Linked DNA regions of Homo sapiens. The protein of the gene in region 1 interacts with the protein of each later gene in a pairwise test. Each region holds a gene or a part of one and is shown on either strand. Other genes may lie near its edges.

Evidence for each region. The genes of interacting proteins can lie anywhere in the genome.
Region 2: the proteins of ECPAS (region 1) and DGAT2L6 interact in binary tests that used the Homo sapiens proteins (3 or more experiments, as listed by UniProt).

The regions. Positions count from the first base shown.
Region 1 is NC_000009.12:111,362,275-111,369,604, forward strand, and holds part of ECPAS (proteasome adapter and scaffold protein ECM29), read right to left. Parts: intron 6,900-7,330; coding exon 6,761-6,899; intron 4,354-6,760; coding exon 4,248-4,353; intron 4,054-4,247; coding exon 3,965-4,053; intron 1,386-3,964; coding exon 1,314-1,385; intron 1,025-1,313; coding exon of another isoform or gene 1,014-1,024; exon of another isoform or gene 1-1,013. UniProt on the Homo sapiens protein: Adapter/scaffolding protein that binds to the 26S proteasome, motor proteins and other compartment specific proteins. May couple the proteasome to different compartments including endosome, endoplasmic reticulum and centrosome.
Region 2 is NC_000023.11:70,172,921-70,180,555, reverse strand, and holds the start of DGAT2L6 (diacylglycerol O-acyltransferase 2-like protein 6), read right to left. Parts: upstream 3,074-7,635; 5' UTR 2,974-3,073; coding exon 2,889-2,973; intron 1-2,888. UniProt on the Homo sapiens protein: Diglyceride acyltransferase that uses fatty acyl-CoA as substrate. Particularly active with oleate as a substrate. Has no wax synthase activity to produce wax esters.

The DNA.
Region 1 (7,330 bases):
TCCTATCCCCCAAATAAATGCAAAGCAACCTCTTGATAACAGATCAGTATATAATTATCATTACATACTGTCAATATGTGTCTCAAAACCTAATTCTTGACAGTAGCGTAGAGGCACATCAGGGAGTTTCCTCTCCTTCCCCCAGTATCAGTGGGAGTAAGAGAAATAATTACACTGAAGCATAGTAGGAAGAAGGAATTATCAGGGCAAGGCACACTGCAGCAAAAAAGTCATTTCAACAACACCATCGCAAGACCATTTCATAAGATACGGTCAGTTAAAAAAAAAAAACTTCTAAGAAATGTCATAATTGCAAGGTCAGATAAATAGATGACACTCCCTTTTCTTCGAGGAAAGCATCTGAGAACTACATGCACATTGAAATTTTTAGAAAATAAGAAAGTATATCAAATCTTAAATCTTGTTTACAAGGTTCTGTCACTTCCTAGCAATGTGGCTTCAGGCAAGTTTAGCTTGCCTTCAGCCTTATTTTCCTCATCTGGACTATATTAGTACATATCTGGCAAACTGAGAATTCGGTAATACGACTAAGTGCCTAGCTCTTTTATCTCAACAAGGAAAAAAGGGATTAGGAGATGTTTAGCGTTACTCAGTCTAAAAGTTCTGTTTGATGGAGCCCTAAGAGAGGTGTTTTAATTGCTAAGCAAAGATAGAGAAGTAGAAAGAGCAAATACACAAGGTTGCAGGAAAAACGTTTCCATCTTCTACATTCTTAATCCGTGAAAACAATTTGAGAGAGAGAGAGAAAAAAGAAGAGGGTCCTCCTTCTGAAGTCAGTAACAGATACACCACTGGAGAAAATGCTAACAGTTCCCCCCCACCCCACCCACTGATAGACCATTAGAAGAAAAAGAGGTTAGGGGAGAAGAAATAGGATTAAGAAAATTGCTACTGTCAGATTTGATGACTCAGGTAGATAACTGTTAAAAATGTTTTTCCAACTCCACTTTTCAGTGTGTCGTTCTGCTTATTTACATGTACACATGCCACTGTCAACCAATTCCTGTAATTAACCAAGATTAAATCAGGATTCACGATGAAAACAAAAACTTTATTACTTTAAGACAACTATAGCTTAATAATATATTAAAAATATATAAAAGTGTATCAAATTTAAATATTTAGTAAAATTTAATAGTTTTGGCTTTGTCCATTCTTCTTGCATGTGCATACATACTGATTTGTATTTCAGAGTATATGCTTAAGAGTATAAGCAAAAACGAAACAAAAAATTTCTAAAACATATGCCACATGGCTTTATGGTCCCCCAGTCAGAACTAACAACAACTTACCTTCAAGTTTTTTAAGCAGCAATTCTATCACAGATAAAGCTTCTGTTCTCACAGATGAGTAGGTCTTATTTTCTAAAAAGAAATATCATACAGTTCATATGGCCTGCCTGAAAAACACAACCTCCAAGATTAAATTTGTGTTGCTGAAAGAAAGATGTCCAGAAATTACAACTCTAGGGAAGGGTATATCTGATTTTTTTTTTTTAAAGGAAGCTTCCCTTTGCTAAGTATCAAATACTTGAAATGTGTGCTAATGTCCACAGTCTTTACTTTGGAAAAACAAAAACCTGTCAGCCAAGTATACCAATCACCACAACAAATGGCAATATTTAAATGATCCATTTTAGAAGTGGGAGATGAAAAAACTATCTCAAACACAAAATCATCTTCGTATCACGGATAAGAACGATCCTTAGGTCTACATGACCCTCCTCATTTTACCAAAGAACATTATATGACCCAGTGTTTAAGCCGATCAGGGACACCTGGAACTCAGCAAAGAGAGGTCTGTTGGCTGCCTGTTCTTTATCCATAAAAGGATGCTGCTGCCAACAACTGCGAATGAAACATGCTTCCTTGGCATCCACTCTTTGACACGGCGTCTGGTTCATGGTGAAATTGTCTACCAAAAAAATCAACACACAACCAAGCCCAAAGCAGGGTAGGCATGAGATGGGCCTTATCATCTTGTTATGCTACAAAGTACAAAAGTGCTACAAAGAGTGACGGTGACCTGTCAAAAGGACACAGGAGGCAGCTTGAAAGGGCTTCCACTGGCCAAATCTGGGACAACTGGAATAACGAATTAGATTTAAAAAATTAAATTATAAACCATTTGAAGGGGGAAAGATTCCATGAATCAATGCCAGTAACAGATAAATAAAAACATGGGCAGAAGAGAAGAATCTTGCTTACAACAGAATTCCAACTATCAAATGGTGAATGTGGACAAAGTGCTAGAGTTGCAAAATCATCTTAGTAAAAATTGGTTCAGGGAAGAATCATCAATGCATGCTAAATATAGAGAAGAAATTTTAAAGAAGAGAAACAAATTACTTGAATGATCTTAAGATCTGTTCCCACAGGCTACTTATTAGACACAAAAAGAAAACATAGTAACTATCCAGTAGAGAAAAACTGATAGTACCTTGACCAGGTAATCAAAATTAACATCACAAATGATGACAGATGGACACTGTGTGCCTCTTAATGTGAGGACACATCACTTATGTATGTATCCCAACTGGGAATTCACAACCTGGATATAATCATGAGAAAACATCAAACACCAAATGAGAAACATTCTGTTTTTTCAAAAAGGGAAGTCGGGGGGACTTTATTCTTCAAAATTGTCAATGTCCTAAGACAAAGAAAGGCTGACGAAGTATTCCAGATTGAAGGAGACTAAAAATATATGACAATAAAATTCAATAAATAATCCTGGAGGCCAAGGCGGGCAGATCACTTGAGGTCAGGAGTTCAAGACCAGCCTAGCCAACATGGTGAAACCCCGTCTCTACTAAAAATACAAAAATTAGCCAGGCATGATGGCACACACCTGTAATTCCAGTTACTTGGGAAACTGAGGCAGGAGAATCACTTAAACCCAGAAGGCAGAGTTGCAGTGAGCCAAGATCACGCCACTGCACTCCAGCCTGGGTGACAGAGCAAGACCCTGTCTCAAAAATAATAATAACCATTATCATCATCATCATCATCATCATCATCATCATCATCACCTGGACTGGATTCCCTAATGGAGGGGAGGGGGAAAAAATCCTATAAAGAACATTACTGGCTGGGTGTGGTGGCTCATGCCTATAACTCCAGTACTTTGGGAGGCCAAGGCAGGTGGACTGCTTGAGCTCAGGAGTTTTGAGACCAGCCTGGCCAACTTCGTGAAGCCCTGTCTCTACAAAAATACAAAAATCAGCTGGGCGTGACAGTACACACTTGTAATCCCAGCTACTTGGGAGACTGAGGCAGGAGGACTGCTTGAACCTGGAAGGTAGAGGTTGCAATGAGCTGAGATCACACCACTGCACTCCAACCTGAGTGACAGAGCGAGACTCCAACTCAAAAAAAATAAAAATAAAAATAAAGAACATTACCGAATCAACTGAACAAACTAGAATATGAACGATAAACATTTGATTTAAAAAACTGCATCCATGTTTACTACCTAAAGTTGACAACTGTACCGTGGCACACTAAATAATTGAGGAACAAGGGGGCCTGAAGTAAGCAACATACTTTCAAATGGTTCAGGAGAAAAACATGTATATAGAAGTCCAAATGACAAAGCAAATGGCACAAAATGTTAACAAATGATTCTGCATAAAGTGTATACATATTGCAGAGTATTACATGTACTGTCGTTGCAACCATTCTGTAAGTTTGAAATTACTTTCAAGTAACAATTTTGTAAAAATACTTGTCACGAAGGTTTTTCTAAACTAGATGCTAAAATCCTGTTATAGTTCCAGATTTAAATATTCCAGTTAAGGGGTACACATGGAGTATAATAAGTAGCAGAGTCCAGTAGCTATTTCAGAAATTTAGTTCCTAAGACAAAGTAGGAAATATTTGAAGCTCAGCTCCTTAGCTTTAAAATTAGGACTCCCTCATCAGTTTTAGTTTACTACACTCACCTAAAGAATATGTGATTGATTTACAAGTTTCAAGCAGAATTTCAGCCAAAGCCTCAGGATCGGCATGTTCTTCTTCCAAAAGCATTAACCTATACAAATCAGAAAGCAAGGTACAAATGCCAATTATTAAGAAACAGTCTAAAACTTTCCTGTCACAATTTCTATCTGTATGTATCACTGTCACTTTAGCTACCAGTTTTTAAATGTATAAAAATTCCATTGATTATACATAAAATGCTGCGGGGAGGAACAAAATAAAAAACTGAGCCATGAAGCAATTTACCCCTGAAAAAAGGCATTCATTGATTGCAGGACTCCTAGCTGCACTTTCCACGTGCTGAGTTTTAGCCGTTCACACATCAGTTTGCACAGCTCCTGACGATAACAACCTGGGAAAAAAAGACAAGGTGGGACAGAGCAGGAGACAGTATAAAAGAACAAGAGATGGAATAAATGAGGGACAGGCAGAGAGAGCAAGAGAAAGGAAGAGGGAAAGAGAAAGAGAGAAGGTGGGGAGGATAAGAGAGAGAAAAGCAGGAAAAAGAGAAATAAAACAATAAATACTTTTAATTAAAGCCATTGAAATTTCCCCAAAAACTTCAGCATGACTTTGTACTCAATCCCCAAACAAATTTCCTTGATCAGAAACTGCCCCCACAAAGGTGCAATATAATTGTTCACAAATATTCACTTTCAAGGCATATGGTTCTCCATGGAACTGAGAAAGCACTTTAACCACACTCCCTTTGCCCCTCAAAACTCCCTGAATGACAGCCACAGAAAGAACTCTGGAGGCCAGAAGCTCCTCTCTAGATGCTCACAAGCTTCTGCAAATTGCAGGTTTACCAAGAGTCAACAGTGCTTTATTATAAACCTGTTATGCCAACTGCAACTGTAATTATAACTATATAATTAATATTATGCCAACTGATGAATCAGCAGAAAACTCAACAACGAAGTTATTTTTAATTACTGTAGGATTTAGTAGGGCTCAAACAAATGTAAAAATGGGGGGAGGCAATAAAAAATCTAGAATTCTGCACTAGGATTGTCTCATAAGAGCTTGAAATTTCTTTCTCTGTTTTAAAGAAACAAAACCCAGAAATTGTAGATATATATGAGAAGCCAATGTGTAACAGTTAAGTTCCTAAAGAAAAGGCCTTGGTTCTCAATAAATGCACATTTCTATTAACAACCTTCTATGTCTTATATTAAAATAAACTGCTTTATGTTTGTATCATCTTTCTCATATAATTCCCTACTTTAGCTTTCTCTACCTATCAAGGAAAAGTTAATACTCTTTATGGCATCATATTAGTGGACTTCCATGGCAGTCTATAACATAATATTAAGAAATAAAACCACCTGCAAATTTGTATCTTCTGGGAAACCCTTCCTATAAACATAGCAAATATATAAGTTCACACAAAGGATGACAGGGCTCAAAGAGAACCTTAACTGATTCTAGACATATCCAATCACAAATAATCAACAGTACTTTTTATAACATTCAATAATATTGTCGCTGGGCATGGAGGCTCATACCTATAATCCCAGCACTTTGAGAGGGAGGCCAAAGTGGGAGGATCACTTGAGCCCAGGAGTTTGAGACCAACCTGGGCAACATAGCAAGACCTCACCTCTTCAAAAAAAATTTGCTGGGTGTCGTGGCATGCACTTGTAGACCCAAATACTTGGGAGGCTGAGGCAGGAAGATCACTTGAGCCCAGGAGGTAAAGGCTGCAAGAACTGCACCACTGCACTCCAGCCTGGGCAACAAAGCAAGACCCTGTCTCAAAAAAAAAACAAACAAAAAAAAAACGAATACTAAGATCTTCAGCAGGATGCACTGTAGGACCCAACACAAGGCAAGCTTAAAGGGTAGCATCATCACTTCTTGGCCTTTTGGCTAAGATCAAGTGTAAAGGGTAGTATCATCCCAAGGTTAAGGCCCTGTCAGGGGACTCCAAACTAACTGCAACCTCATCCAATAATAGAGGTTTACTGTTCATTTAATCTTTGGGAAATACATGTCCAGTTCTGAAAATTGTCCAAATAGTAATGAGTTTTTCACTGAAACAGGGATTTCAGTTGCTTACTGAACACTTGGTAACAAGACCATTCATTTCAGGATAAAGAGACCCTGCTAATAAACTTTGTGCATTCCTCTGAATAGAGCTATGATCATCAAGAAGATCAGTAGAACTCGTCTATCAAACTATCTGCATAAAATGTATCATGGTTATTATAGGTGGAACTGTGCCCCCAAAATTCGTATGTTAAAATACTATCCCCCAGTACCTCAGAATTTGACTGTATTATTATTAAATAGAAGACAGAGCCTTTAAAGAGGTCATATGAGTGGGCCCTAATCCAGCGTGCCTGGTGTCCTTATAGGAAGAGGTGATTAGGGCACAGAGACACCAAAGACCACGTGAAGACACAGGGAGAAGACAGCCATTCCCAAGCCAAGGAGAGAGGTCTCAGGAGAAACTAACCCTGCTGACGCCTTGATCTCGAAATCTCAGACTTCTATCCTCCAGAATTGTGAGAAAATAAATTTCTGCTAAGCCACCCAGTCTGTGATACTTTCTTACAGCAGCCCTAGCTACAGCGGTACAATGATCAGTGAGATCACAGACTCATGTAGACAAAAAACTTTCACTGGATAATTCTCATTATTAATCAATCAGGCTCGATAAGAAACAATAACTATAATTTGTCATAGAGAAAATTCTTCGCTCTCATTAAGTAACCTCTGGTTACAGCACTTCAAATGCAGTTTCTGGTGCTTACGTTGGGTCTCCGCGTTTCGCGGCCAGGCTTTGCCCAGGCTTTCAAAGGCACCCAGCAGATATTCCAGCTGGAGCTCCTTTTCCTTTTCATTCTCCTCTTCATTTTTGGTTGTCCGGACCCCACTGCTTTCAAGTGAGTTCTAGGATATATCAAAGAAAAGAAAATGTAATATTTTCTTCTTCAAAGTTACAGGTATACTATTAAAGCTATCAGGGTACCAACCAAGGCAGGAGATATTAACCAAGAGTTAAATGATAAATTCTCTACCATAAGTTTCCCTATTTACAACAAGAATTTATAACCAGAATACTGTATCTCTAATAAATTTAGGCAATACTTTACAGGCATCTGTAAACAAAAGCTAAAAAATACTGCATATGTAGTCTTTTGAGCATAACATGAAAAGACTTGCATTAGAATCAGATTTTAAAGATGGAAGAAACTCAGTAATGATCTAAATCCAAACTCTTTCTTGATAGAGAAACAGAGGCTAAGAGAAGCAACTGGTCCAGCTTGCTAGTGATGTAATCAACTTAAAACACAAGTCTCCCAAATCCATATGCTATCACT
Region 2 (7,635 bases), on another chromosome or scaffold:
TCTAGGTATTGTACCACAATAAAAATAACTTTTAAAAATGAAGGTGAAAAAAAATCCCGTTTATTCTTTATTTTTATTTTTATTTTTTATTTTTTACTTTTTTTGTTTGAGACAGAGTCTTGCTCTGTCACCAGGCTGGAGTGCAGTGGCGCAATCTTGGCTCACTGCAACCTCTGCCTCTCGGGTTCAAGTGATTCTCCTTCCTCAGCCTCCCGAGTAGCTAGGACTACAGGCACGCGCCACCACACACAGCTAATTTTTCTATTTTTAGTAGAGATGGGGTTTCATCATGTTGGCCAAGATGGTCTCGATCTCTTGATCTTGTGATCCACCCGCCTCGGCCTCCCAAAGTGCTGGGATTACAGGCGTGAGCCACCGCACCTGGCCCCATTTATTCTTATGTGTTTCCACTGAAGACCCATAGGTATCATCCCCACTCCACTCCTCCAGCTCTTCTGGGACAACTAGAAACCGTTGAGATTTGGGGGTAAAGGGGCATTACTTGGAGGCTAATCCTCACCTTCTTGGTCCCTCACATATCCAGTTGTCTGATACACTCTCTACCCTATACCCAGCAGGACACAGTGTCCTTTGAGAGGGGAAATGAAATAGAGAAAAATATATATGAGAAAGTATCATTTTCTGGCAGAAAAATGAGTACATTTTAATTAGAAACACTGCCTCGGCCCGGCGCGGTGGCTCATGCCGGTAATCCCAGCCAGCACTTTGGGAGGCCTAGGTCGGCGGATCACCTGAGGTCAGCAGTTTGAGAACAGCTTGGCTAACATGGCGATACCCCGTCTCTACTAAAAATACAAAAATTAGCTGTGCGTGGTGGCACACACCTGTAGTCCCGGCTACTCGGGAAGCTGAAGCAGGAGAATCGCTTGAACTCGGGAGGCGGAGGTAGCAGTGAGCCAAGATCCTGCCATTGCACTCCAGCCTGGGCGACAAGAGTGAAACTCCATCTCAAAAAAAAAAAAAAAAAAAAAAGCTGCCTCAGAAGAGCATTCTTGGGTGGGACAGGCCCTACACCTAAAAGGACCCGCTCACATAGCTCATCCTCTCTTGACCTCTTTCCCCTGCTCTCTCTGCCCCATCTCTGCCCACTCTTTCTGGGACCCGGATTTGACACGGTTGCTGCCACCCCAATAGCAAGTCTCTTAGGACATTCCTGTGCTCCTCACTTTCCTGGCTGAGGGTCAGAACTTATCAAAGGGGTCTTTTTGAGGAAGTTAGGGGAAATGCAAAGGAAAACAAAAGGAAACTATGAAAGTCTAGAAACAACTAAGTTTACTAACAAAATGACTTTCTTCTCTCGATATAGCTAAAGTCAAGCCATCAATGGGCTTAGCATGTTTTGATTTTAATAAGGCTTAATAAGTCTGCATTTTGAGAAGGCTGTGGACCCCTCTGGCAGTCTGGTGAAGCCATGGACCCTTTCTCTGAATAATATGTTTAAATGCACAAAATAAAATACGCAGATTTACAAAGGAAACCCATTATATTAAAATTCAGTTATCAAAATATTACCCACAATATAATATAGTAACATATGTGCTTCTTGATGTATGCATTAAATAACCAGATCTAACAGCAGTGCCAATAACTACTGGAATTTTGAAGTAGTCGTGAACATAAATGAAATTTCGAGATGCCTGCAACAACTATAATATGAAATGCAAATCTCTGTGATGTCTGTTACTGACACTCACAGGTACTCCTAACACTTCGTGGTTTATTGCCTACATTCATCATTGAAGGAAATACTACATTTCAGTTAGAGGTTAGTGGAAAGAAAGAGGCAGTTTTATTCATCCCAATTCAAAGTAACCCCCATCCACCCTGAATTTTTGGTCTATAGGACCCTGGTTGAGAGCCTCTGCTCTAAGGGTCATATAGCCTCCCATGGGTTGGAACCAGCTGTCTCCTACCTGTCTCATCCTTCAGGATGACATTATTTCTCCTCATCCAGTTTTCAAGCTTGCACCTGTAATTGACCACCCCCAAATCCCTGGTTTCTGGCAGGGAAAATCTTGGAGCTGTCAGCCCGTTTGCCGTTTGCACTCCAGCCTGGGCGACAAGAGTGAAACTTCATCTCAACAACAACAAAAAAAAGCTGCCTCAGAAGAGCCTTGGGTGGGAGAGGCCCAACATTGTTGACTTCTGTGCTGTGAGTCCACAGAACAACTGGCTCTTTCTCAAAATTCTGTCTGAGATGTCACTCAGGCAGCCCTCAGATTTTCCAGAATTGTCTCACCATAACCATAGACTAGAAAATCACCCTACACCTACCTAGTAACACCAACTCTGTAAGCCACCACCACTTCTGCCCTGTCCCTGAATATGACTCTTTTCAGCTAGTTCATAGGGGACAGCTCCTGAGAAGACTGGAGTGATTTTTTTTTTTTTTTCATCTTGAGACGGAGTCTTGCTCTGTCACCCAGGCTGGAGTGCAGTGGCACGATCTTGGCTCACTGCAAGCTCCACCTCCCGGGTTCAAGTGATTCTCCTGTCTCAGCCTCCCAAGTAGCTGGGATTACCAGTGCATGCCACCATGCCTGGCTAATTTTTGTATTTTTTTTTTTTTCAGTAGAGACGAGATTTCACAATGTTGGCCAGGCTGGTCTCAAACTCCTGACCTCAGGTGATCCACCTGCCTCGGCCTCCCAAAGTGCTGGGATTATAGGCCTGAGCCACCGTGCCTGGCCTGGAGTAATCTTTAAACCAGAACAGCTGCAGCCTCACTCCTGGCCTTTGTGCCAGCCAGATCCTTCCCAGAGGGTGGAGATCACCCAGATGATCTCTTTGGAACCCTCCTCATCTGGAGATTGGCCACTCTTTTGGTTTGTTCCCCATGTGCTCTCCAGCCCTTGGGGTTCACTCACCTAAAAATATATAGACTGGGATCCATTGCAAAACAAAGAAGGTTTGGAGGCCCTCCTGGAGATTCAGTCGGGAGAAGAAAGCCATGGTTATGGTGCTGTTCTGTTGTGGCAAGAAGCCTAACCAGAAGGTCAAAACTTCTTAAGCTGAGTTGATTATAGATGCTTTGCTATAATCTCTTACTGTGGAGTAAGATTAGCTGCTGGGGTTTTGTCAGGCTTGACCAAACTTTTCCTCCACTGCCCCGCCCCAACTTCCTACCCACACATCAGGTTGCAGATCAGGCAATATAATTGATCTCCCCAGTAGTATCCTTTCTCCACGTGTGCCCAATTGTAATGAAGCAGAAATGGCCCTGGGGCGGCTCTAGCTGTGGGGGAGGGGCACTCTTGATAAATCAGCGCAGGAAGAGAGTATCTTGGGCCTCAAATAGGACCTCCGAAAAGCACCCCACTACCTTTCCCTGCTTAAGAAAAGGGACTTGGCAGCCACACTTGTTCCTGCCCTAGTGGTTACCCTTTGTCTCCTCTTGTCTTCTGCTGAGTCACCTAGCCCACTGGGGCTGTTTTTCTGCACCGGATATCTGTTAATAGACTCTTCAGATCCCTCTTTGTGCCTCTAGTCCCAAGGGACCTGCCTCAGTGGCCAGATACCTTATCATAGAGCGGGAGAAACATTGCACAGAAGGAAGACCTGGCTCCCAGTCCCAGCTCTGCCATGCTCTTCCTGTGACACCTTTGGAAAATGTTACATCTCTCTAGAGCTCAGTTTGAGCATTCATTGCTAGAATGTAATATAGGTTAGGGGCATAGACTTTAGAGCCAGATAGCTGGGGTTCACATCTCAGCTCTGTCACTTACAAGGTGGTGAACCTCTATGCCCCAGTTTCTCCATCTGTAAAAGTGGGACTATAATAGTACCTACTTCTTAGAGTAGTTCTGAGGATTAGATAAGTGAATGAATATAAAGTGCTTAGCACACAGCCTGGCACCGTTTCCTGTCATTACTACTCACTGAGTTCAAGTAACACATATTGAACAAGTAACATATGTTTCAGGCTGAGGCTTGCTTCTGTGTAATAGCCTTTGGAAAACTGAAGACTGTTCCCAGGTCTCAGACCGTTTTTTTTCTGTTTGTTTGTTTCGTTTGTTTTTTTTTTTCCAGACAGAGTCTCACTGTGTCGCCCAGGCTGGAGTGCAGTGGCGTGATCTCGGATCACTGCAACCTCTGCCTTCTGGGTTCAAGTGATTCTCCTGCCTCATCCTCCTGCGTAGCTGGGACTACTGGCGTGCGCCACCACGTCCAGCTAGTTTTTGTATTTTTAGTAGTGAGAGAGTTTCACCATGTTGGATATATTTTTTCTGTCACTATCTATTGAGTGACTGCTGTTTGCCAGGCACTGTGTTTAGGTGCTGAGGATTCAGTAGGGAAGAAGACAGACATGATTCTTGCCTTCTTTGAGTCTACAGTCTAGTGGAGGAGACAGACATTAAAACAAAAAAAAAATCACAAAAATGTTAGGCTGGGTGCGGTGGCTCATGCCTGTAATCCTGGCACTTTGGGAGGCTGAAGCGGGAGGGTTACTTGAGCCCAGAAGCTCCAGACCGGCCTGGGTAACATAACGAGATGCCATCTCTACAAAATAAGTAAATAAATAAATAATAAAATAAAATTAAGATAAAATGTCTGTACACTTGAAGTTGCAATGTGTCCTACAGGAAAAGCCCAGTACTCCCAGCAGAAGGCCTTGAATATAGAAGGTAGTCAAAAACATCTGTTAAACATAACTGAAGGGGTTGCTGGGAAAATGAGATACAAAAATGGTATCAAGGGTTCTATAAGTGCAAGGGGGCATTGGTCCCTTTTCCAGGGAGATTGTTGGAACTCTGTCATCTCCCCACCCCCACTCTGCTTTGGGCTTCCCGCATTAGACTGACCAATGTGACTCTTCAGAGCTGAGCTTGGGGAACTTTTCTGGTATGTCAGGGTGTGCTTTCACTCCCCCGTGTGCACTAGATGGTCATCTGACATGCGACACCTTCCTCTTCCTCCTCTTTCTTTTCTTCCCCTTGGGCTAGCTGGGGTTCTCCAGCTGCTTCTTGGGGCTGCTTGACCACATAGAAGGTGAGATGTATCAGAGCGTATCTGCTCAGAATTTGCACGGGAGGAGGGAGGGAGGTAAGAGAGGCAGGCTTGGCTCTGCTCAGGGAAAGCAGAGATATGGAGGGGCTTAGAGTGCCCAGGCCAGACGAGATCCACAGTATCAAGAGCTCCAACGCCCCTTACAGATCAGGTCTCCGCTCCCCTCCACTTTCAGATGGGTGAATGGAGGAGATCTGGAAAGGGCTCAAGGTGATGCAGGAACCAGAGGCAGACAGGGCCAGACAGTTTTCTACCTCTGTCTCCCTAACATCTGGGTCAGGGTCTGGTGCAGAGCAGGCACTCAAGTAAATGTCTGTTGAACCTGTGAGGGAGACCAGGTCTCTTGATGCCTCAGGCAAGATAGACTGACCCAGATTGGCCACCCTTTGCTCCCAAAGACAGAGCACGCTGGCCCAGCTGGAGCTCTCTTGAGCCAAATGGACAAGTATAACATAAACATCAGTGAACAAAGAAAGAGCAAGAAGAAGATAATTAGGCTAGCAGATAAACCCTGAACATCCAGCACTCGTGATTTCCCAGTTACAATTCATCAACCAACAAGCAGAAGCTTGGCAGCCTCAGAGTAAGCAATAAAGAAGGAAGGGTTGCCAAGGAGCACAAAGGGCCTGCCAATTTCATTTGTAGACATTGAAGGTTGACGTGATTCCCACCCTCAAGAAACTCACAGTCCAGTGTTGGAAGTAGGTGTAAAAGCAGACACCTGCATGGGGTGCTGTGGGTTGCACAGACGAGAGAAGCACCTGCCTGCCCTGGGAGGTGAGGGAGGGGTCTGTGGAAGAGGGCCTGCTGCAGTGAGGAGAAATGGATCAGGCGAGAGAGGCCTGGACGGGCAGTCCAAGAGACGGCCGTGAGCTCATCAAACGGGGCTGTGATAAGCTGGACCCCAAAGAAACTTCAAAGGAGCAACAGAAAAACAAAGAAAGGAGAAAAGTGGAAGGAAACAGATCAAGGGGACCGGGACCAGAGAGCTCAGAAAGGGTGGTGGAAGTGAAGGGGTAGCTCTGATTCAAAGCTCTGATTCAGAAAGGGTAGCTCTGATTCAAAGGTTCACCCTCAGCCTTTGGAATGACTCATTTCCAGACAGCTTTGGATAGCTGAGGTTTTGCCATAATTTGTTTTCTTCTGATCTTCTCCCTCTGTCATACCCTTATATGGTTAGGTATTACAATTTCAGCTCAATTGAAAACATTAGGCCCAGGCATGGTGGCTCACGCCTGTAATCCCAGCACTTTGGGAGGCTGAGGTGGGCGCATCACTTGAGTCCAGGAGTTTGAGACCAGCCTGGCCAACATGGTGAAACCCTGTGTCTACTAAAAATACAAAAATTAGCTGAGCATGGTGGTGCAGACCTGTAGTCCCAGCTACTCACTTTGGAGGCTGAGGTGGAAGAATCTCTAGAGCCCAGAAGGTCGAGACTGCAGTGAGCCAAGAATGTACCACTGCACTCCAGCCTGGATGACAGAGCAAGACCCTGTCTTAAACAACAACAATGGAGAACCTATTTAATGCCAAGCACCAGGCTAGGTATTCTAGAAGGAGTGTACCTAATCCCTTCATTCACCAAATTTTTCTTGAGGCCCTACTTACTCTAAGTCTGGTATTGTTCTAGGTTTACAATTGCATGTGTGTTGGGTTATGGGGCAGGGGGCACGGACAGGGAATGAAAGAAGTGCATATGTCATCAATACAAGGATTGGGGCCATCAGAGAATTCCAAAGGAGACAGAGACGAACACTAGCAGCTGTGTGACCTTGGACCAGACACTTCCTCTCTTTGAGTCTTGGTTTCTTCATCTGGTAAAAAGGATGCATCCTATTTCTTTGCTGTGAGATGTAGTGGCAGTGTTTGAAAAGCTTCTCGTGCAGTGTCTGCCATCCAGGAGCTGTTCACTAGCGCTCCTATTCAGCTGTGGGGAGGGAGTATTTGCAATGTGCTCTAACAGGTTGAGAAGTGGGGAGGATGACATTTCCTACAGTGGCCCAGCATACACAAAAGACCAGAGGTTTGCTTTGGCACACGGGGTGGTTTAGTTTGATAGGAGTCTCAGGTTGGTGGAGGGGAGTAGAAGAAGAGAAGGCTGGAAAGCGATAAGTGGAGCTGATTTCCTCACAAATCTCTTTACGTATCTGGAGGCCTAGATACGTAAAGAGATTTATGTTTCACTGGATTCTAGGTCTAGAATCCAGTGAAAGTAGACCCAGGAGTGGTGGTGGGACGAGGGGCCTGTGGAGATGGAGGGTAGGGCAGAACAGGGGACGTTTAAAATCCCCTGGAAGCAGTAGTGACTGGATCACTTCTCATGGCAGGCAAGGCCCCAGGGAACAGCGGCCTCCAGTGTCCTGGTTCAGGGTCTTGGGGGAGGGGTGGCCAACCCTCCCAGTTTGCCTGGGATGAGGAGTTTCCCAGGATGCTGGACTTCCAGGGCTAAAACTGGTATAATCTTGGGCAAACTGGAACAGTCGGTCCCCCTAGTTTGGGCCCTTGTCACTGTCTCCTGGACTACAGCAGGTTGTTGCCTGCTTGCCTCCCTTCCTTTGGTCTCCATTCTGCAGTTAGAGGGGCTGCTGTCAAACACAGCTCTTACTG